Regions from separate parts of the Homo sapiens genome. Here regions 1, 3, 4 and 5 are each reported to be linked to region 2. Evidence: microRNA targets listed by miRTarBase, many of them from high-throughput screens and not tested one by one. Region 2 holds a microRNA gene; each other region holds the end of a gene's coding sequence.

Evidence for each region. The annotated mature microRNA hsa-miR-215-5p reads AUGACCUAUGAAUUGACAGAC and lies in region 2 at 2,340-2,360, opposite strand. An mRNA with a match to its seed (bases 2 to 7 or 8) in the 3' UTR can be bound and repressed. Matches are read on the target gene's strand: a 7mer-m8 pairs with bases 2 to 8, a 7mer-A1 pairs with bases 2 to 7 and ends in A, and an 8mer does both.
Region 1: miRTarBase lists CHM as a target of hsa-miR-215-5p. Seed matches in the 3' UTR shown: 7mer-A1 at 3,019-3,025 and 7mer-A1 at 663-669.
Region 3: the mRNA of FERMT1 is a reported target of hsa-miR-215-5p. Seed matches in the 3' UTR shown: 7mer-A1 at 1,526-1,532.
Region 4: the mRNA of NUCB2 is a reported target of hsa-miR-215-5p. The part of its 3' UTR that is shown has no 7-base or 8-base seed match.
Region 5: the mRNA of SAYSD1 is a reported target of hsa-miR-215-5p. The part of its 3' UTR that is shown has no 7-base or 8-base seed match.

The regions. Positions count from the first base shown.
Region 1 is chrX:85,860,966-85,865,024 of GRCh38, forward strand. It overlaps CHM (CHM Rab escort protein), which reads right to left. Exons shown (of 15, transcript NM_000390.4): 15 at 215-3,856. The coding sequence ends at 3,665. Among named protein-coding and RNA genes, the nearest start is that of MIR1321, 27 kb to the left of the region's middle.
Region 2 is chr1:220,115,577-220,119,642 of GRCh38, forward strand. MIR215 (microRNA 215) reads right to left here and starts at 2,386; the gene lies at 2,277-2,386. All of the region lies in intron 12 of IARS2 (isoleucyl-tRNA synthetase 2, mitochondrial), which reads left to right. It overlaps MIR194-1 (microRNA 194-1), which reads right to left and starts at 2,665; the gene lies at 2,581-2,665. It overlaps LOC124904515 (a long non-coding RNA gene), which reads right to left and starts at 3,537. Exons shown (of 2, transcript XR_007066883.1): 1 at 3,409-3,537; 2 at 2,166-2,307.
Region 3 is chr20:6,073,351-6,077,409 of GRCh38, reverse strand. FERMT1 (FERM domain containing kindlin 1) reads left to right here. Exons shown (of 15, transcript NM_017671.5): 15 at 64-2,565. The coding sequence ends at 237. Among named protein-coding and RNA genes, the nearest start is that of LRRN4, 21 kb to the right of the region's middle. RefSeq lists a silencer at 2,976-3,125.
Region 4 is chr11:17,330,779-17,334,837 of GRCh38, reverse strand. It overlaps NUCB2 (nucleobindin 2), which reads right to left. Exons shown (of 14, transcript NM_005013.4): 13 at 3,855-3,936; 14 at 2,627-3,426. The coding sequence ends at 3,419. Among named protein-coding and RNA genes, the nearest start is that of NCR3LG1, 19 kb to the left of the region's middle.
Region 5 is chr6:39,101,677-39,105,735 of GRCh38, reverse strand. SAYSD1 (SAYSVFN motif domain containing 1) reads left to right here. Exons shown (of 2, transcript NM_018322.3): 2 at 1-1,673. The coding sequence ends at 304. Among named protein-coding and RNA genes, the nearest start is that of SAYSD1, 11 kb to the left of the region's middle.

The DNA of each region.
Region 1 (4,059 bases), not on the chromosome of region 2:
TTTGCAAAGTAGCTCATGCCCCTATATTATTTCATTGCCTTTCTCACAAACTTAGCACAGTTGGCAGATGCCTAAAAACAAAACCAAATATACAGCTTGACAATTAAGTATTTACATACTAGACTAATATTAAAACATAAATCAGGTTAAAGGCAATCTTCAAATTCTTGGCATATATAAAAGATGCAAGTATTACAAAATATGACACCATGACTGAAAAGGATTTAAAAGTCTTTATTTCCTCTGAAAACTTACTGGTAAAGTATACAATTTATGAATAATCATATATTCATGCTTTTTGAAATATATCTGAATAAAAGACAAATTATTCAATATCAATAGCAGTAAATAACTTATTTGCAAGAAAATTATTACAATTCCTACTGTAAAGAATCACCAACCACTATTTAGCAATTAAATTTCAACACATTTTTTTTGGAACTCTTTAGGACTTTAGACAAAGGCTACCAAGGCTGACAATCCAGGTAACTATGGCAGTGACAGAAGTCAATCATTAATACTGCCATTATTTTAGACAAAGGGCTGACAATCTCAGAAACTAGTTCTAGAAATTATCATCAATGTGGCCATTTTACTATGGACAAATAAATATGGGAGATAGGGAACTTGTTACTCCATTTTCCTATAGAAAAATATATAAATTGACCTTTTATATATACACAGGTATGTATACACATACAGTATATGTTTTTCTGAGCAGGCACACCAACTAGGAAAAAATACAATAGCAACATAGGATTAGGTATTGCTTCTCATACTGATCACTAAACTAAATGGTATTATCATTTTCGGTTAATAAGAAGCATGCATAACTAAACAGTTTAAATACTTGAATCAAAATTCTTTAATAGCATTTTCTGAAATTTTAAATTAGCTACTGAAAATTTTCCACTATGTACAATATATTTTATTAATATGATTTCAAGCTTAAGGTTTTATAACAAGACTTTTCTTTTTGATTTAAAACTATAAGAACAAATATTTATTTGCAGTAATTAGGATAGCTAAAATCAAAGCTCTAAGAATAATTTCTGTTACATTTTGAGGCAACAGGAAATATATAAAGTTCTTAAAGTCTTTTATCAGTTGTATGATATTTTAATCATCATGAATCATGTTCAGGAACTTTTAAACATTTCAATCATATTTAATAAATGACCTGAAAGAGAGATTCTGATGCTAATGGATGAAACAGGGTACAATAATGGACCACAAACTATCTCCTCCATTGTTCTACATATAGGTGGCTGCAGTAAGGCCAATAGAATTTTTGTGGTTATTCTAGGCCTACCCTGATTGTCTGTTTACATGAATGTGCATGCTGCATTCAAGCGGCTTTAACTCTAAGACCGTAACAGTACAATATCTTTATTGGCACAATTTACTGCAATTGTATTCAGACTCAATCGTCTCATCTACTGGAACCTTTTATAATATATTGCTGATATCCAGGGGCAAGGCCAATATCCGGTACATTAATAAGTATGTATTAGACATTGAGTGCATATGCCCCAGCTGGGTTTCAGGAAACATGATTTGATATAAGAAAAATCGAATCCCTATGACAAAGTAGGTTATAATGTGATCCTACTGTCCCTGATTTGTGTGACATTATAAAAGGGGAAGTGAGGGAAAGGGGACTAAAGAGATGGGGAGGGGCTGTACACTGGGAGGTAGGGATAGGAGCAGCCTGAGAGGCTAGTAAGTTAAGTTCTTCCATTACTCTGGCTTGAACTATATCTGCAGTGGGTAGAAAGGTGAGGCAAGAGCTATATTCCTTGGTTCTTTCCATTTCCCATGAATCTGTGACCTGCCACAGCTGGCTTCCTTTAAGAACATCTCTGAAACCTGGTGAGGTCAGGGACCAGCTGCAGTTGAAGTATGTAAGAACTATGTACTTTACATTGGAGCCATGGCTTCCTGACAGACAATATAGGCCAGATGTTGTGAGAAAAAAAAACAAATAGTTCATTTGTTTGTTTATTTATAGGCAATTATAAGTCTCAACTATTGCTCAAATAAAGTAGACCATCAGAGCTTGGCCATTTGAGAAAATTTAAATATAGGCAACATCACTGCAGCTTAGTTTGCTGCCTATGTACAGCCCCCTTTTTTTTTTTTTGTGAGACAGAGTCTTGCTCTGTCACCCAGGCTGGAGTGCAGTGGCAAAATCTTGGCTCACTGCAACCTCCGCCTCCCTGGTTCAAGTGAGTCTGCTACCTCATCTTCAAAGTAGCTGGGATTACAGGTGCCCACCATAACACCCAGCTAAAATTTTGTATTTTTAGTAGAGACAGGGTTTCGCCATGTTGGCCAGGCTGGTCTCGAACTCCTGACCTCAAGTGATCTACCCACCTCAGCTTCCCAAAGTGCTGGGATTACAGGCAGCCCTAACGTTTTTATGTAGTGTATATTAGGGCTTACCAACTGTCATACACAATTTGGAGTCCTTGGTGGTTGCAGGTTTACCTACCAGAAAAGGAATAAAACAATTTATAGAGTGTTTTCCTTAGTAATATTTCAAAACCACAATTCTACTTGTTACTATTTTTACTGGTCTGTAAGACTATAAAATACTACTTTAAAAAAGAAATTTTCATTTAAAAAGCTTAATGCAATAAAAACACTGTGATCTATTTTGTTTGGAAGTTGACTGACAGCAAGCAATTATTTCCTGCGTGAGACTTTTGAGATTCATCAAGTCAATGGGAAAATTCTAAAACAATTTTCTTCTGGCAAACCGATTCTAAACATGGCATTGCATTGTCTTCATAACCATTCTCATATAGTAGGCATAGTAATACTATTTCCACTTTATATATGGAGAAACGTAGGCTCAGAAGTTAAACAATTTACCAAATATCATCAGTAGGACAGCCAGGATTAAATTAGGTCTGTAGACAATTAGCCTAATACTCTAGTTACTTGACAGACAGAATATTCAAATACCAATGAGCCTATCCACACCTTTCCTTCCATTCTTTCATTTCTTCATTATTGACCTTTCCCAATATGTAAATAATTTACAAACAAATATCACTACTGATACTAAAAAACACTACTGACTTATTCGTAAAAATGTCTAAACACCTTTATATTAGCATTTTCAATGCTTCTCAACATAGAAAGCAAAACAAACCTGTATTCCAAATACAGGCTTCTATCTAGATCATGATACTTTAGTTTTTCTATATGTTTTTATCATTATGTTATGATGCTCTTGTCCATAAAGAAAATAAAATTCAAATAACCAAAGAAAATACATGAGCTGGTTCTGAAAATGTGGCTTTCAAACAAAGATCCAAAGTGGTAAGCAAAATTGTCCTAAGACCATGGAATTATTAACAATGCATAGGATCACTTTCATATCCACAGTTACATTCCTGAGAATCAATTGATTTATAATTTTCATCTGCTAGTCACACAAGTTTGGTATTTAAAATGAGCAAGTCAATGTGCTTTATAAGTGTTGTGTGTTCTTGGAATGTCCTCTATAAGGAAAATCCCCTTTTGGATTTCTATTACCTATTTTGCCTTATAATTGCTGCTGCTTTCTAACATTTCTCAAACAGTCCTTCTATCAAGTAGACTCTGAGACCAGTCAGAATTTCCAAAGTTGGGTATCCAGTTTGGTGTATATCCATTATTCAGAGGACTCCTCTAGGTTTCCAAGGTTTGTGCTTTCCTTGAAAGTCTCCGAGTTAGCCTCTGGTATGGCACTGGATTCTGAAGCCTCTGGCTGTAAACTGTCTCCATCAAGGATAATGTCTTCAGGATTTGGTGGAGGGGGACAGAAATCTTCATTGGGGCAGATTTCCTGGAAAAGTGTTTCAGCCTGGCCAAGGAAGAAAAGATAAAATCGTTTTTGGAAATCGGTTTAAAATGTGTGTGCATTTCTGGCATTAACTAAAAAAAAATAAGTGTTTTATCCTTAAAAATTTGCTTAAACAGGCTACAGTACTTAATCAGAATACATGAACTTCCGTAAGTCTGTTTTCAGAATTCTATGACTTCTCCCTTTAATTCTATACATGTATT
Region 2 (4,066 bases):
AAAATTCATTTATTATAAGTGATTTATAGTAAATTTGTTAAGTTTTACAGCCACTATCATAATTGTGTCTTAGAATAATTCTTTTATCCCGAACAGCTCCCTTTTGTGCTTTTCGAAAGAGAAGTTGCTTGGAAATCTGTGAGCTTTGGAGAATGGCAACTGAATTTGAACCCAGGCTTTGCCATTCACTGTGTGTGAGACTGAGGAATTTACTTAGCCTCTGGCTCCTCTATAAAATAGGAAAAGCAATGGTTGCAGGTAGACTGTTATGAATACTAAATAATAAATGCAAACTACTTGGTGTAAAGCACAGTATTCCATAGATGATGAGCTATTCATGTATTCACTTAAGAAACATTGTTATGTGGGCACAGTGGCTCATGCCTGTAATCCCAGCACTTTGGGAGGCCAAGGCGGCAGGATTGCTTGAAGCCAGCTGTTCAAGATTACAGTGAGACCCCATCTCTACAGAAAAATTTAAAAATTAGCTGGTGTGGTAGTGTGGGCCTGTAGTCCCAGCGACTTGGGAGGCTAAGGCGAGAGGATCGCTCAAGTCCAGGAGTTTGAGGTTATAGTGAGCTATGATCATGCCAATGCACTCCAGCCTGGATGACAGAGCAAGACACTGTCTCTTCAGAACGAAACAAAACAGAACACATTGTCAAGCACTTAGTACGTGTCAGTGCTAGGAACTGCTAGTTGCTACAGTGAACAAGACTGACATGGCCCCTGTTTTTAATGAGATAATAGTCTAGCTAGTTTATCTTCTAGTAATATTAGGGAGGCTTTGAGTGTTGTTGCTGTTTTTCACAGATGTGGAGAGGGGAATGTTAATTCTTCCTTTTAGGAACACATTCCAGATTTTCATTTTCTTTGAGCAATTTTTTTTAATTTGGTGAATGGAATTTTTTCTAAATTATGCTATTAAGAAGTTTAAACTTTTAAGTAGACTTGAGGAGTAAGAGTATGTTTTAGGAAAAGAAAGTAGAGGCTAGAGACTGGAAAGTCATTGGAAAGCTATTTCAATATTATTATAAGTTGGATCTGAGGTAAGACTTTAGGAATAATCTAAATATTGTTGCTGTGGTGTTCTTACAGAGCTTGGTCAGATGTAAACTACTAATATCTTAATACTTACATTAAGAATTAATGTAAATTCTGTCCAGTTCAGATTATTTTATTTTATTTTTGATACAGTCTCACTCTGTCACCCAGGCTGGAGTGCAGTGATGTGATCTTGGCTCACTACAACCTCCACCTCCCAGGTTCAAGTGATTCTCCCTCCTCAGCCTCCTGAGTAGCTGGGACTACAGGCACGCGCCACTGACTTGGCTAATTCTTGTATTTTTAGTAGAGATGGGCTCTTGCCACGTTGACGAGGCTGGTCTCGAACTCCTGGCCACAAAGGATCCATCCACCTCTGCCTCCCAGAGTGCTGAGATTACAGGCATGAGCTACCATGCCCAGCCTCAGACTTAGTTTAAAAGAAAAAGAATTAAAGTGATTATACCTGAGACGAGTTTCCACAAACATTTGTTTAAAATTTCACACTGGAAAGTTTTTTTTTTTTTTGGAAAGTTTTATAAGCCATGTCATTGTCTCCTCTTCTTTTTTTTTTTTTTTTTTTTTTTTGAGATGGAGTTTCACTCTTGTTTCCTAGGCTGGAGTGTAGTGGCACGATCTCAGCTCACTGCAATCTCCGCCTCCCAGGTTCAAGTGATTCTCCTGCCTCAGCCTCCTGAGTAGTTGGGATTAGAGGCATGTGCCACCACGCCCGGCTAATTTTATATATATATATTTTTTAGTAGAGACGGGGTTTCTCCATGTTGGTCAGGCTGGTCTCAAACTCCCGACCTCAAGTGATCCGCCCGCCTCAGCCTCCCAAAGTGCTGGGATTACAGGCGTGAGCCACTGTGCCCGGCTACTCTTCTTTTCACTATTTAGAGAGCAAGATGTCTAGGGAATTTCACTGAAGTGATTGAGGTGGGTGGGGATTCCTTGGTGGAATAGCCCTCTGGACTCTGAGGTGGATCATATGTATGTATTAGTAAATATAGCAAACTGGTTTAATTGATACATCCTGATAATTAAATGGTACATAGGTTGACTGGTCAGTAAGTTAGGTTAAATAAATATGAGCTTTGTCAGAAAAACACAAGTTTTCATTAGGTATATTTATGTTTTATTTACTCAATACATTTACATGGTAGTGTTACAGATTATCTTCTGTGTACCTGCCATTGCGTTGGTTGCGTGGTGTTAGTCGATTTCTGATATTGAAGTAGCACAGTCATACAGAATATTGGCCTAAAGAAATGACAGACAAACTCAGCTATATTGTCTGTCAATTCATAGGTCATTTTCCTGTATACCATTTCTGAATGATGACTTTAATCCTCTTCCATTATTGGATCTTTTTGGTGTTACAAAACTTGAATTTAAGAAAATTGATATTAATTCTTAATCATTTGTTAATTTTATAAAACAGGCTGAAAATCTTTTTTTCTGCTGGAATCAAATGAGAGTCCAAGTGACCACAATTTTCTGTCTTTCTTTATTATACCTTTATATTGTAGCAAGTTGGTAACCATCAAAAGTAACAGCATCTCCACTGGAAATTGGTACACAGTCCACATGGAGTTGCTGTTACACTTGATAACACCATTAAACATATAAGGAGATTCCTTTTGCTCATCATGGGAGCTGTACGATATCTCTAAGTATACTTGTTTCACAGAAGAAAGTCTCGATTTATTCATGTTCTAAATAAGTTTAGGGACTGGTAGATTTGAAACGCTGATGTTTTATTTTGATTTGAATTAATAGTGTCATTTGCATTTTAGATCATATTTGTATTTTATCAAGAAATAATTCCATTTCTGACTTTACTGTCATTGGTCATTTTTTGAATCTGTGAGATAATGCCATTAGAATTTGGGTTGAAATCTGTTACTAGTCAATAAAAACAGAAGAAATAATTTTTAGCATAAAAAAGATAAAATGTAGAAACACTGGCTACCTGGGAAGGAAAAGAAGTTGGTTAAATTTCTTTCATCATTTCAAACAGTTATAATCACTTTCATGCTATTAATGCTATAGTTAACATAGTGAAACTTAGCCCCTAACTTCTGGAAATTATGAGAAATTTAGTAAAAATAGCCAAGGAATTTCCAATATAATTTGAGTGTTAACTTTAGCTACCTCAAATTTTTTCTCAGTTAACAATAATAAACCTTTTGTTCAAAAAATTTATGTTCATTAAATAAAGAAAAATTTCTTCAAAATGGTTTTCTGTCAGCTTTAAAACATAAATCTAGGATTAAACTAAAAATAGAATTTCCCCTTCCAAATTTCACATTGTTCTAGAATTAAATTTAGTAAACAAATGTGAAACATTTAGCCTCTTACCTCATTCTTCTTCCAGTAAGTTACAGAAGAAAAGTTGTCTTAATAATCTTCAATATTTTTGCTTATAAAGGCAAAACACAGAAGACAGTGGGATGACAGCAGTCGTTTCTTTGTTGCTTTAGTAATCTTAATGCTGCTTAATGTCCATAACACGCTAAATAAGCCTCATTCCGGTTGATATCGAAGTTCAGAATGATTGGCTGATGTCATAGTTGCTCATGCTACCTAGTGGATTTTCACTGATTGAAACCTAAGAAGGGACACGTAATGCATGTGTTGAGATAAGGCCTTTGAGTAAAGTACAAGGTTTTATGATGGATTTATTGCTTTATGAAGTAAAGCATTAAGATGGAAGCATATAGATTACATACTGGTAAGTGGTTTCACCCACTTTTATCAGCAGTCGTTTATACTGATCTTTGGGTTATAGGTTAACTATGAGTTTGTGTTAAGTATACAATGTTAAAGAAATGAAGGTAGAATTCTTAAATTTCAGACAAATTAGGAATTTTCCTGCATTTTTTTCTGAAGAATATTAAATATCACAAGGAAATAGTTAGAAAATTGTTTAAAAATTTTTTTAGGAAACAGAAAATTATTTAAGAAATCTTTTAAGTATTATCTTGGTTTCATTATAAAAAAATTCCACTTCTAAGTA
Region 3 (4,059 bases), not on the chromosome of region 2:
AAGCACTTTTTTTTTCATCATTCCTTGTCAGAGTTTAAGCTTCTCTGTGCCTTCCTCTTCCAGGTGGTCATCGAGTTTGACCAAAACGTCTTTACTGCTTTCACCTGCCTGAGTGCAGATTGCAAGATTGTGCACGAGTACATTGGCGGCTACATTTTCTTGTCCACCCGCTCCAAGGACCAGAATGAAACACTCGATGAGGACTTGTTCCACAAATTGACCGGCGGTCAGGATTGAAACAAGCACGCGTGCTCGGCTCACACCAACAAGGCAAGCCAAAGGCGCCCCTCCCCAGAGGGATCCCTAACGTGCCCAGCATGTAGATTCTGGACTAACAGACAACATACATTCACCGCTGGTCACCCAGATCCTCATTCAAACCCACTGCTGGCACATCCCTTTCCTTACTTTGCCCTGTGCTACCAGCCACGGAAGGAGCCTCTCTTGTTTTTTCTATAAAATGGGTAGGCAGGAGAAAAGCAGGTGCCCTAAGATTGCTCTAAGGCCCAGCATGTGGTTACAGTTCTCTGACTTGCAGAACCTGCCAGGTGTATGGCTACAAGTTATCCTCGTGCTGATCTGTCTCATTACTAAGTCAATGGAGAAGACAGAAAGGTAAAAATCACGTGTAGCAAGAACAACTCTTATTTCACAAACTCAGGTATGAAACGAAACGCCTGTCCTTCATGGAACTGCTTTTAGCTCCTGTCTTTTCAAAATGGCAGAGGGAGTTCCTACACACACTTTTTCCCTGGAGGCCAAGGTCTAGGGGTAGAAAGGGGAGGGGTGGGGCTACCAGGTAGCAGTTGACAACCCAAGGTCAGAGGAGTGGCCCTCAGTGTCATCTGTCCACAGTGATACCTGCCAAGATGACCACTGACCCACATCTGGTCTTAGTCATTGGTCTCCTCAGATTTCTGGGGCCACCTGCAAGCCCCATTCCATTCCTACAGATCTCTCAGCCACCTGTAAGTCCTTTGTGAAGATGTGGGTGACACAGGGGGACAGGAAAACCCATTTCTCAACCCAGATCCATGTCTCCACTGCTTCTACTCTGGGTTGGGATTCAGGAAGACAGGCACAGTCCTCTCTGTTCATAGAAACACCTGCCAGTGTCAAGGATTCCAGTCAGGTGTCTATCCCAACTGGTCAGGGAGAGAAGGGCAGACCCATTCTCAAAGACCACCATGTCCAAGGTCTGACAGCTCCCCACTGGCTGCCCCCACAGGGGCTTTAGGCTGGTCTGGGTCATGGGGAAGCGTCCCTCTTATCGCTGGTCTGTGTTCTCCTGGATTTGGTATCTATGTTGGTACGACTCCTGGCCTTTTATCTAAAGGACTTTGGCTTTTGTAAATCACAAGCCAATAATAGACTTTTTTCTCCCCCTCTGTTTTTTGCTGTGTCATCTCTGCCTTGAGACTGCCTTGAGACAGTGCTTGCCTTGAGAGAGTGAGCCAATTAACAGCTGCCTGAATTGTCATTTTCCATTTTGGTTTGTTAGAGGTGGGAGGGGTGGGTTTTGAGAAGGTCAAAAGCAATACCAGAAGTAAAGGGAAATATCAGACAATATTTTATTATTTTTTCATAGATGTTCTGCCACACAAAGAACTTGGGGTGTAAGGATAAGGCAAAAGCTCCAATCCCATTTTTCAGTTCTCCTAGGATGCACCCCTCAGGGAGCCTGGCCAGAGTTCCGAGGCCCGTGAGCGTCAGCTGTTGCTTTATTTTCCATCAAAGCCCTCTGAGAAGTGAGACCTCAGCAATTCCGGGAGCCACATAGAGACAGACTTGGCAAGGGACCCCCTGGTTCTGAGCCAGTAGCTGCCATCTGGAAATTCCTCTTTTAGCCTCTCCTTAGAGGTGAATGTGAATGAAGCCTCCCAGGCACCCGCTGAATTTCTGAGGCCTTGCTTAAAGCTCAGAAGTGGTTTAGGCATTTGGAAAATCTGGTTCACATCATAAAGAACTTGATTTGAAATGTTTTCTATAGAAACAAGTGCTAAGTGTACCGTATATACTTGATGTTGGTCATTTCTCAGTCCTATTTCTCAGTTCTATTATTTTAGAACCTAGTCAGTTCTTTAAGATTATAACTGGTCCTACATTAAAATAATGCTTCTCGATGTCAGATTTTACCTGTTTGCTGCTGAGAACATCTCTGCCTAATTTACCAAAGCCAGACCTTCAGTTCAACATGCTTCCTTAGCTTTTCATAGTTGTCTGACATTTCCATGAAAACAAAGGAACCAACTTTGTTTTAACCAAACTTTGTTTGGTTACAGTTTTCAGGGGAGCGTTTCTTCCATGACACACAGCAACATCCCAAAGAAATAAACAAGTGTGACAAAAAAAAAAAAAAACAAACCTAAATGCTACTGTTCCAAAGAGCAACTTGATGGTTTTTTTTAATACTGAGTGCAAAAGGTCACCCAAATTCCTATGATGAAATTTTAAATTAATGGGCACCTTTCAACATCATTTGCTTCCTTATCTACAGTTGATTCAGAAATCTGCATTTTTTATTCTTTTATATGACTTTTAAGTAAAAGATTTATATGGATTTGAGTACGGTCCTGTTGTGTCCTCTCCAACCTACTGTCTCCAAAAAGGTGACTTTTTCCTCTCTTATGAAAAGGGACTGCAACTCTGAGGTCTAACATGTGTCTCTCCTCACAGCGCCAAGATTCCGGGTCGTTCCCTCCCGTGGTGTGGGGAGTGGCAGATTCCAGGGGTCCTCAGAGAGCCCCTTAGAAACCTCACTTACCCGCTGGTTTCAACTCCTTTCTCACTGACTTGGTCACAGATTTCCTGGCATATCCTGCCTTATCATGAGCTCTTTTGTCTCTTTCCAGTTCTATATTAAAACACACACACACACACACACACCAGCAAGCAAAGATCCCCAGCGGCAATAGAACAGCAGAAGCCTCTGATTCTGATGGCTGAGTGTTGAGGGCACTTTGCTTTAGTGACATGCAGTTTATAGATATCCCTTTGTGCAATTCTCCTGTCAGCCCACAGAGGGTAGAAATGGCTTCCTCTACAAAGGAGAAAGGTTCAGAAGGTGAACTTGCCCAGGGTCACACTGCCAATGAGCAGTGTTTGTCTTGACTCCAGAAGCCACTAAGCTTAACCCAGCAAACCCCACCCTTCCTTCCCAGCCTTGCCCAGCCTTGAAATGCCCCTTACCCTAGCTCCAGAGCAGGCGTTCCTGAGCTCAGGCTCATACCAGTAAGAGAGAACCAGGGGCATTAAGAGCAGTTAGCTGTGGGAGGAGAGGCTGGACCAAAAAGGTCTGGGAGCCAGAGAAATGAGGTGCTTAGAGTGTTGTTGTTTTTTTCTTTGTTTTAATTTTTGTTTTTGTTTTTTGAGATGGAGTTTCACTCTTGTTGCCCAGGCTGGAGAGCAATGGCGTGATCTCAGCTAACCACAACCTCCGCCTCCCAGGTTCAAGCGATTCTCCTGCCTCAGCCTCCCGAGTAGCTGGGACTACAGGCATGCACCACCACGCCTGGCTAATTTTGTATTTTTTTTAGTAGAGACGGGGTTTCTGCATGTTAGTCAGGCTAGTCTTGAACTCCTGACCTCAGGTGATCCGCCTGCCTCGGCCTCCCAAAGTGCTGGGATTACAGGCGTGAGCCACCGTGCTTAATTTTGGGAAAGTTTCATTTTTAGTCCCACGGTCAGAAAAGTAAGGAAATGAGGAAGCTTTAATTTGAAAACTCATTTAATACAAGAAGTCAAGATATTTTATAATATCTGTCTTCTAAAATCACTTTAAAATTTTATTTTTAACTCACAAGATTTATTTTTGGGGGCTGGGCATAGTGGCTCACCTTGTAATCCCAGCACTTTGGGAGGCCAAGGCAGGAGGCTTACCCGAGCCCAGGAGTTCAAGACCAGCTTGGGCAACACAGCAAGACCCCATCTCTACAAAGATTTTAAAAAATTAGCTGGGCATGGTGGCACATGCCTGTAGTCCTAGCTACTTGGGAGGCTGAGATGAGAGGATCCCTTGAGCTCCAGGAGTTCAAGGTGGCAGTGAGCTATGATCATGCC
Region 4 (4,059 bases), not on the chromosome of region 2:
TTCAGCTCACTGCAACCTCCACCTCCCAGGCTCAAGCAATTCTCCTGCCCCAGCCTCTTGAGTAGCTGGGACTATAGGTGTGCACCATCACACCCAGCTAATTTTTGTATTTTTAGTAGAGATGGGGTTTCACCATGTTGGCCAGGCTGGTCTGGAACTCCTAACCTCAGGTGATCCACTCACCTTGGCTTCCCAAAGTGCTGGGATTATAGGCGTGAGCCACCATGCCCGGCCTAGGGTAGCTTTTAACATGCATTCCTGTCACACAGAGGTAGGAAAGTTGAACATTATATTTCCCAACCTCCTTTGCAGCTAGGGTTTCAGATATGATTGGTCCAGTCCATCAGATTCACTCACTTGAGACTTTTACTCAGAGCCAAGTAACGTGGGGACAGAGGCAGGAAGAGATGTATCTATTTTTGCTGGCATAAAGCATGGCAGAGGTGGTGTGGCTCTGGAACTGGCAACTGTTCAGCAGGCAGCTTCCTAATCCAGCAGGCAGCTTCTTGATTGTTCTAAAAGCAGCAGCTCTTTCAGCAGCCTACTCTTGTGACATAATTCCTAGAAGCTCAGCCTAGATCTGTTTCTTCAACCCTCCCATTGATTCTGTGACCTATATATACTCATTCATCAATTCCCTTCTGTTTAATAGCTAAAGAAGATTTCATTGCTTACAGCCAAGAATCTTGACCTATACAGAATTTGGCAGCTAGAAGTAAAGCACAGCAAGTCGAAGGCCCTAAATCTGGGGTTGGCTTAGTTGAGGAGGTAGGGCTTTGGGCAGTGAGACTTCTTGCCAACAGAAGTCAAGGTGAGGTTGAGACTTCCTGCCACAGAGACGAAGGTGGTAGAACTTCAGAGTGCTAGCATGTGTTGGCTGCTTCTTGCCTCTTTTCAGCAAAGCCCTACAAGAGATATGTGACTTGGACTAAGATTAACAAGTCTGCAGTGACGCAAGGGAAAAATAGCTTTGCTGAGAGAATTGCTCTTTGTCTACCATATAAATTGACCAAGTCCCAAATCTGGAGCCCTGAAGAATTGAAAACTGTACTCCAAACTGAAACATTTATAAGTAAAGGCTCTGAGGGAGCTACTAAAACTTTCTCAACCTTTTTTAAGAACCTTCCCTTAAGAATTTTCTGCCAAATAATAGGAGCCATCCTAGGGGAAGAGATCAGATTAAGACTGTTGCCATTCCATGCAAGCCTACAGTCTCAAAGGATCTCAAGGAGGTACCATTCCTGTAAGAACAAAGGGGATGGAGAGCACACAGAGGCCAGCAAGTAAATGATGAGGTTCTTTGTTAAAAACAATGTATTTTACCTTGGTTAATACTGTCCATGTAAATGACTGAAGACAACAGACCAGAAACTTACTAAAGTTTTAGGAATCCACTTGGCCAAGAAACAGAACAAAACAACAACAAAAACCCAAACCTGGCCTGCAATAGACTGTAGCTGTTACGGATCTATACTCTAATTCCCAAGCCTGCCCCCAGACTCACAATTATAGGAAGTAAACTGCTAAGGCTGCCCAGCCTCCAAGAAGGGTATACTTTCCAATGCCCATTCAGATTGTGTCTGAAAATTAATGTACAATAAAAACCTCCAAGAAAGTAAAACCAAGGCCCCCTGAGGACATTAGGTAAAGGAATTCCTCTCAGAAAGGTGAATCAGGGGTTGCCTGATAGGCAAACCAAGGAATATATTCATGAACTATAGCAGAGAGATTTAATTATTTTTGCCAAGTGGTACTTTCAAATTGCTATGGATCAGTGGCCACTATATTTCTATTTCTCCCTTTTTCTAAAAGGTCAATTTTAGGGATCTTGGGCATGGTGGCTCACACCAGTGATCCCAGTGCTTTGGGAGGCTGAGGTGAGAAGATTGCTTGAGACCAGGAGTTTAAGACCAGCCTGAGCAACATAGCAATACTCCATCTCTACAAAAAAAAATGTTTAGCCAGGCGTTCGTGGCATGTGCCTGTAGTCCTAGCTACTAGGGGGACTGAGGTGGAAGGATCACTTGAGCCCAGAAGTTCAAGGCTGCAGTAAGCTATGATCACACCACTGTACTCTAGACTGGACAACAGAGTAAGACCCTGTCTCTAAAAAATTTAAAAGGTCAGTTTTCCTGCACCTTTGCATTATGCATCTGGTGCTCTCAGGGCAGAAAACTTGTCTTTCAGTTTGTAGGTGGCCAGAACACAAGGAGCCACACCCTAACATGATGGAGGGGACTGTCTCCAGATAGCATGGTCTTTCATCTAGTATGCAATAATGGGCTGGATTTCTGGTGGTTTCTCTTCAGGGAGAGAGGGGTGAGTGTTTTCTCTCTCGGAAGAAGAAGGTACACAGAATTTAGGTAGCCAACAAGGCTGGCTGAGTTTAAAATCCAAAGTTGCCTACCAAACATTCCCTCTTCCCTTCTTCCTTAGTAAAAGAATCCAACTTTTAGCTGGTCACATTGCCACATTGACTTCTCAGCCTCCCTAGCAGCTAGGTGTGGCCATCAGTGTGACCCAGTTCTGGTCGAAACATAAGTTCAGGTGCTGCTGGTTCTGGAAAATGGCCTCAGGGAAGCTAACTCAAGCAGAGAAAGTCCAGTTTTCTTGCCTTCCCCACTGCCTCCAGGAGCAAACTTGAACAGTGAGAGTGAGGTAATCTGAGGATAAAAATCATGCACTGAGGATAGCAGAGCAGAAAGATAGGAACCTGGACACCACCTACTTCTAGACTTATGTAAGAAGAAAAACTCCTATTTAGTTTAAACCACTGTTATCTTTGTTTTTTCTGTTATATGTAACATAACCTAATCTTAAATGATAAAGTATAGAGCAAAATAAAAAAGAATGAAAAATGACCTGAAGTGGTAGCAAAAGTGATTCAGGTGAAGAATTTCTAGCAGTTGAGGTTGCCAAAACTAGAAAAACGTTACCAGGAAACACAGGGAAATACTGTGGCCTTTCCAGAATTGTTAATATCAAACAGACATTTATTGAAAGAAGGAATGATAAGCACCCATAAAAGAATACCTATGTTTACGAGTAAGTGAGAGCAATCTAATTTAAAAGCAAGAGGCAGAGTTTTCTCACTTAAATAGTTCCTAATAGTTTCACTAAATTATGGCATAAAGCCACTTAATTAAATCATTAAAGGAGAACAAAAAAATAAATAAAAGAGCCGTGTGAATGTGAGAGCAGAGAGCAGACAGTGAGTTTGTTTTCTTCCTGGTTCTGATAAACTTCAATCCTTTAATATCTGTGTCCCAAAAAAAGTGTTTTCATTTAAAAAGTATCTCCCTTTATTTCAAATATGCTTTTAAAATATTTATTGAGCAGAGAAAAAGGAAGGGAGCTAAAAAGATGAAATAGATGTTGAGTTAACAGCTTTCTTCCAAGTTCTGGTGGACTTCAGACTTTAAATGTCTGTTGGAAAAAAGAAAAAAGTTCTTATTTTAAAAGTATCTTCCTTTATTCTAAATGTTCCTTCATATACAAATATACTTGTTTTAAAAAATATGCTTAGCTAATCATAGATCACAATTTTAAAAAACATATTCTCTGGTAAGATTAATATAATTAGAAAGAATTACAAATAAAGTTGAAATAAATCATTTTACCATAAATATGGTTATCAAATTATACAAATGATACAGCACTTAAAATTTGCTGCTACATAAAACTTTTGGAGGCATTTTCATTTTTCTATAATCTAAATTGCTCTAATACCACAAAAAATACACAAAAAATAACATAACATCTTAATGATTTGAAATTATATTTGTAATAAATGTGGATTTCAATTGATAAAATAATTTATTTTCCTAAATAAATAATCAAACAAAATTACACACGTGGCTCAAACTTCAATTCTCCAGCTGGCCCTGATGGAGGAATTCCTTGTTGTAATTTTTTTTGTTCCATCTGCTGTATGACCTGGTGAATGGAAAATGAAAGTTAAAAGTATAACTTGATTTTCTATCATATGTGTGACCTTTGACAAAGCACAACAAAGTAAATGAAAATTGTTTTCTAAAACAAAGATATTCAAACTATAAG
Region 5 (4,059 bases), not on the chromosome of region 2:
GAACACAGCCATTCCTCTGCCGTCGTGCTGGGACCAGTCTTTCCTGACCAATATCACCTTCTTGAAGGTTCTTCTCTGGTTGGTCCTGCTGGGACTGTTTGTGGAACTGGAATTTGGCCTGGCATATTTTGTCCTGTCCTTGTTCTATTGGATGTACGTCGGGACACGAGGCCCTGAAGAGAAGAAAGAGGGAGAGAAGAGCGCCTACTCTGTGTTCAATCCAGGCTGTGAAGCCATCCAGGGCACCCTGACTGCAGAGCAGTTGGAGCGCGAGTTACAGTTGAGACCCCTGGCAGGGAGATAGGACCCAGCTGTGCTGTCATGCAGCTAACCTCTGATGTGGTCTTCCTCACCATTGGCTATGGATTTGATTTCAGGTGTATAGGACTAAGGGCAGCTTGCGGGTTAGCTCTGTGACTGCATAGTTTTTCTACCTTCTTTCCCTGATCTTTTGCTGCCATTTGATCTTTGATAGTTTTGGTGAAACTCTCTAAAATACATTCACTGTGGGTCCGACGCAATTTATAAAAATTATGTACTCAAGAAGGGAGACCTGTTTGTTTCATTTCTCATCTGTTTGGGAGATGATTTTAGAGCACTAGAAAGGCACTGGGGAGATTCTCAGCTTAAAACATCCAGCAGTTTGAAGTATGATTAGGTACATCAGGGCTGCATTGTCAATGTTCTCTTTAAGTCTTTTAACATTTATAGCAATTTTTTTTTTCCCGGAGAGTTTAGGTTGCAAGTTTTGGGTTTCTTGTTTGTTTTTGTTTTGCTTCCTGCTTTAATTCTTTAATTTTCAGTCATTACTGGTATTGAAAAATAAAATATCTTTAAAACATCTCCTCTTCAGAAATAGGTCCCTCTTCATTGCCCATCACCATCTTCCACTCTCCTATTATTTTGCCACTACTCAGTAAAGGAAGGTAGGAAGAGACAAACGCCTAAGTGCAGGTGTGGGGAGGGATTTCACAAGTGGTTATTAACGGCCAGTTCAGCAAGAAGTGTTGAGTGTGTACAAAGGGGAGGGCTGGAAGTGTTAACTCCAGACCCGTTGGCTGCTTGAGTTGTTTCTTATATTCTAAAGCAGCAGTCCCTAACCTTTTTGGCACCAGGGACCAGTTTTGTGGAACACAGTTTTTCCATGGACGGGGTGGTGGTGGAGGATGAAACTTCCACCTCAGATCATCAGGCATTAGAGTCTCATAAGGAGCACGCAACCTAGATCCCTCGCATGCGCAGTTCACAATACGGTTCTAAGGGCTTTAGAGTAAGCAGCTTTTTCACCTGTGGGCCTCTGGTGAGAAATTCTGTAAATTGTGATAATCAGGCTGGATTTTAATGCTGCTTTTCCAGTACAATGTTAGAGTTTGGGTTCATTAAAATTAGGCAAACTCCCATTGGGTTAGGGCTTCTCTCATTCCATTTTGTGGCTAACCTTACTGTGTTTCAGCCCTTGCTGAAAATTCTTCTGATATGTGTTGCCCTTCCTCACAGCCCTTTGGCCATTGGGAGTTTGGCTGTCCCTCAGAGCCATCCGGTCAAGCAGATGGTCTGTTCTATCTCACAGAAAAGTCTTTTCTTCCATGAGTTCTGTCTGAACTGAACATGTAAAAAGTATGGGAAACAGATGAATCCCTATTAAACATGAAGTTTTGATTGTATTTAAGATACAATTTTGTTGACTGATTTATTTTCTTAAGGCTTTCTTAATTTTCTTGATACTTTCCTTGGGCTTTTCTGTTTCATAAAAGCCCCATACAAGGGAGTAATTCCCTAATCTTAAGTTTTACTGCAGTGCTCAGGGCAGTAAGCATTGCTGTAGGAAAGAACTAATTTGTATTTTAAAAACATATAATTCAGACTTTCCCCTAAAACAAAATGCCTGTAACTCTGAATTAGGTTTGATCCAATTAGTAATCCCAGTGGGGTAAAGACTTAAGCACGCATGAGACTTGACCTATGGGTGGACCTCAGTAGTGATTTTTGAAATGCAGCTGTTTTTGAGGTGGAGTCTAGATTGCCTCAAACCCATCTTGCATGAGATTTTCTGTGAACAATTTGTCACTTCTAACCTCTTACCAAAGGTGCATGTAATGATGGCATTAACTTCTAGGAAAAATAGTGTGTGAATCAATTAATGGCCTGGCAGGGAGAAGAAGAAAGAACAATAAGTATTTGGTGCTCTGATCAGACCATTAGGTTTTAGGTGCAGCCTTGATTTTCCGAATTTAGGCCTATTGATCTCAGAATTTCCACTCACAGCCTGACCATTAACCCAGCATGCAGCTTCCATTAAAGGATTCTTCTGTCATCAGGGAACTTGAAATCCCAGAGGTAGATGCAGTCACTGTGATAGCTTTATACACGAGTGAAGTCGTTTGTGTCCAAGTCTAACAAGTAACTTGGTTTTTGCTTTTATTCACATTATCCCATCTTGCCTATTGATAGGGACTGTTCAACAAGACTCTACATCTAAAGTTGGAAGGGACCCCAAAATACCATCAAGTGTGTTCCCCACCCCCAACCTTGGGCAGGGCCATCATTTATTCCCAACTAAAGATAATTTGTTTCTAGTGAACCCCTAAAGAAGATTCCAGGTACTTCCTAGGAAGTTCTTTATGTTTACTGAAAGAACTTTTGCCACCCCCATCCCCGCCATCTGGGGTTATTTTGTCTCCTAATCTCAGTGGATGTGGAGTCCCTGGAGGCCTATGTGAGCATCCTTCACACTGGTAAACCTTTACTCAGTTCTCTTTTCTCTCTGCTCTTTAGGCCAAGTCATTGAGCTATACCTCTGGGACTCAATCACTTTCATGCTAGCCCTGACCTATTCTAAGTGTTTCAGGTTTGGGTGGGGGTGAGTGGCCCTGTGGATGGGTATAATGATCTTTCTCAAAAGCTTTGGAGCTTTGCCAGTGATGACTTAGGCATGTGTATTTTGTGCTATTAGAGTTATGCTTTGAGTATAGGCTGTCTTTCACATTTGCCTTTTGACTGATCTGTGCGTCAATCAAAAAGCTCTGTGCTGCAAAATCTTAGAAAGTTACAGAATTGAAAGAACCAGTGACCCTCAGTTGGGCAGAAGACATCAAAATTCGAGCTGTGTGTTTTTAGTTCCTGCCACTCATACCAGCAAATATTTGTAGATGCCCTGGATTTGGCGCTGCTGGGGACACACACATATGAGCTCCTGCATAGGATGAGCGTCCCTAAGAGCCCGGGGATGCAGGGGTGGGGTTGGGATGTCATGAAGCATGTTGCCGCCAGGCGGTGGCGTAGAGCTGCCACTATACCTCACGGGTCCCTTCACATCACACTTGAAAATTTACGTAATGTGGAAAACCCTCTGGGATGTTTATCTCAACCGCTTGTGCTGCTTTTTCAGATGTTTTTTTCAGTTTAAAACTCACAGAGGAAAGGGCCCATCAGAGGTCCTGGGAAAGGCATAGAAAGCTACCAGAAGTGATTTATATATGTATTTAAAAATAAAACAGCAGCCCCTCTCTAGACTTAGCAGGCAGTGTTACAGTTGCTTGCACATAGCTAAGCTTTGCGGGAAGGGGAGGTGGAATGACTAAGAATTTACATAGTTGGCAGAGAAAACCAACTCCCTAAGCCAAAGAAAGTAACTTTTGAACCATATGCTTTGGTTTCTATCACACATAATTTTATTTCACAACTTTGGAGCACTAGGCTACATAAAGACTTGGATCCCATTCTCAAAAATCTGAGAGAGAAGACAAGATGAGTGCACACAAACTGTATTATAAAGTACAGGACATAATGTGAATGTTTATAAAGGTGTAAGGTGTGTGTGTGTGTGTTCAAGGGAGAGATCACTTGCAGTCCTAAATTCTATACTATATAGGATTTTCACTTCTATGTGAAAAATACTCTTTCCTTAACAAGTCATGGATGAACGTTTTGAAAAGTATGGTCTATAGACCACGCACCTGCATAGGAATCTCCTGTAGTAATGTTAAAATGCAGATTCCAGGGCCCCCACTGACTCAGAATGTCTGAGGGTAGAATCCTGAGAATCTGCATTTTAACAGC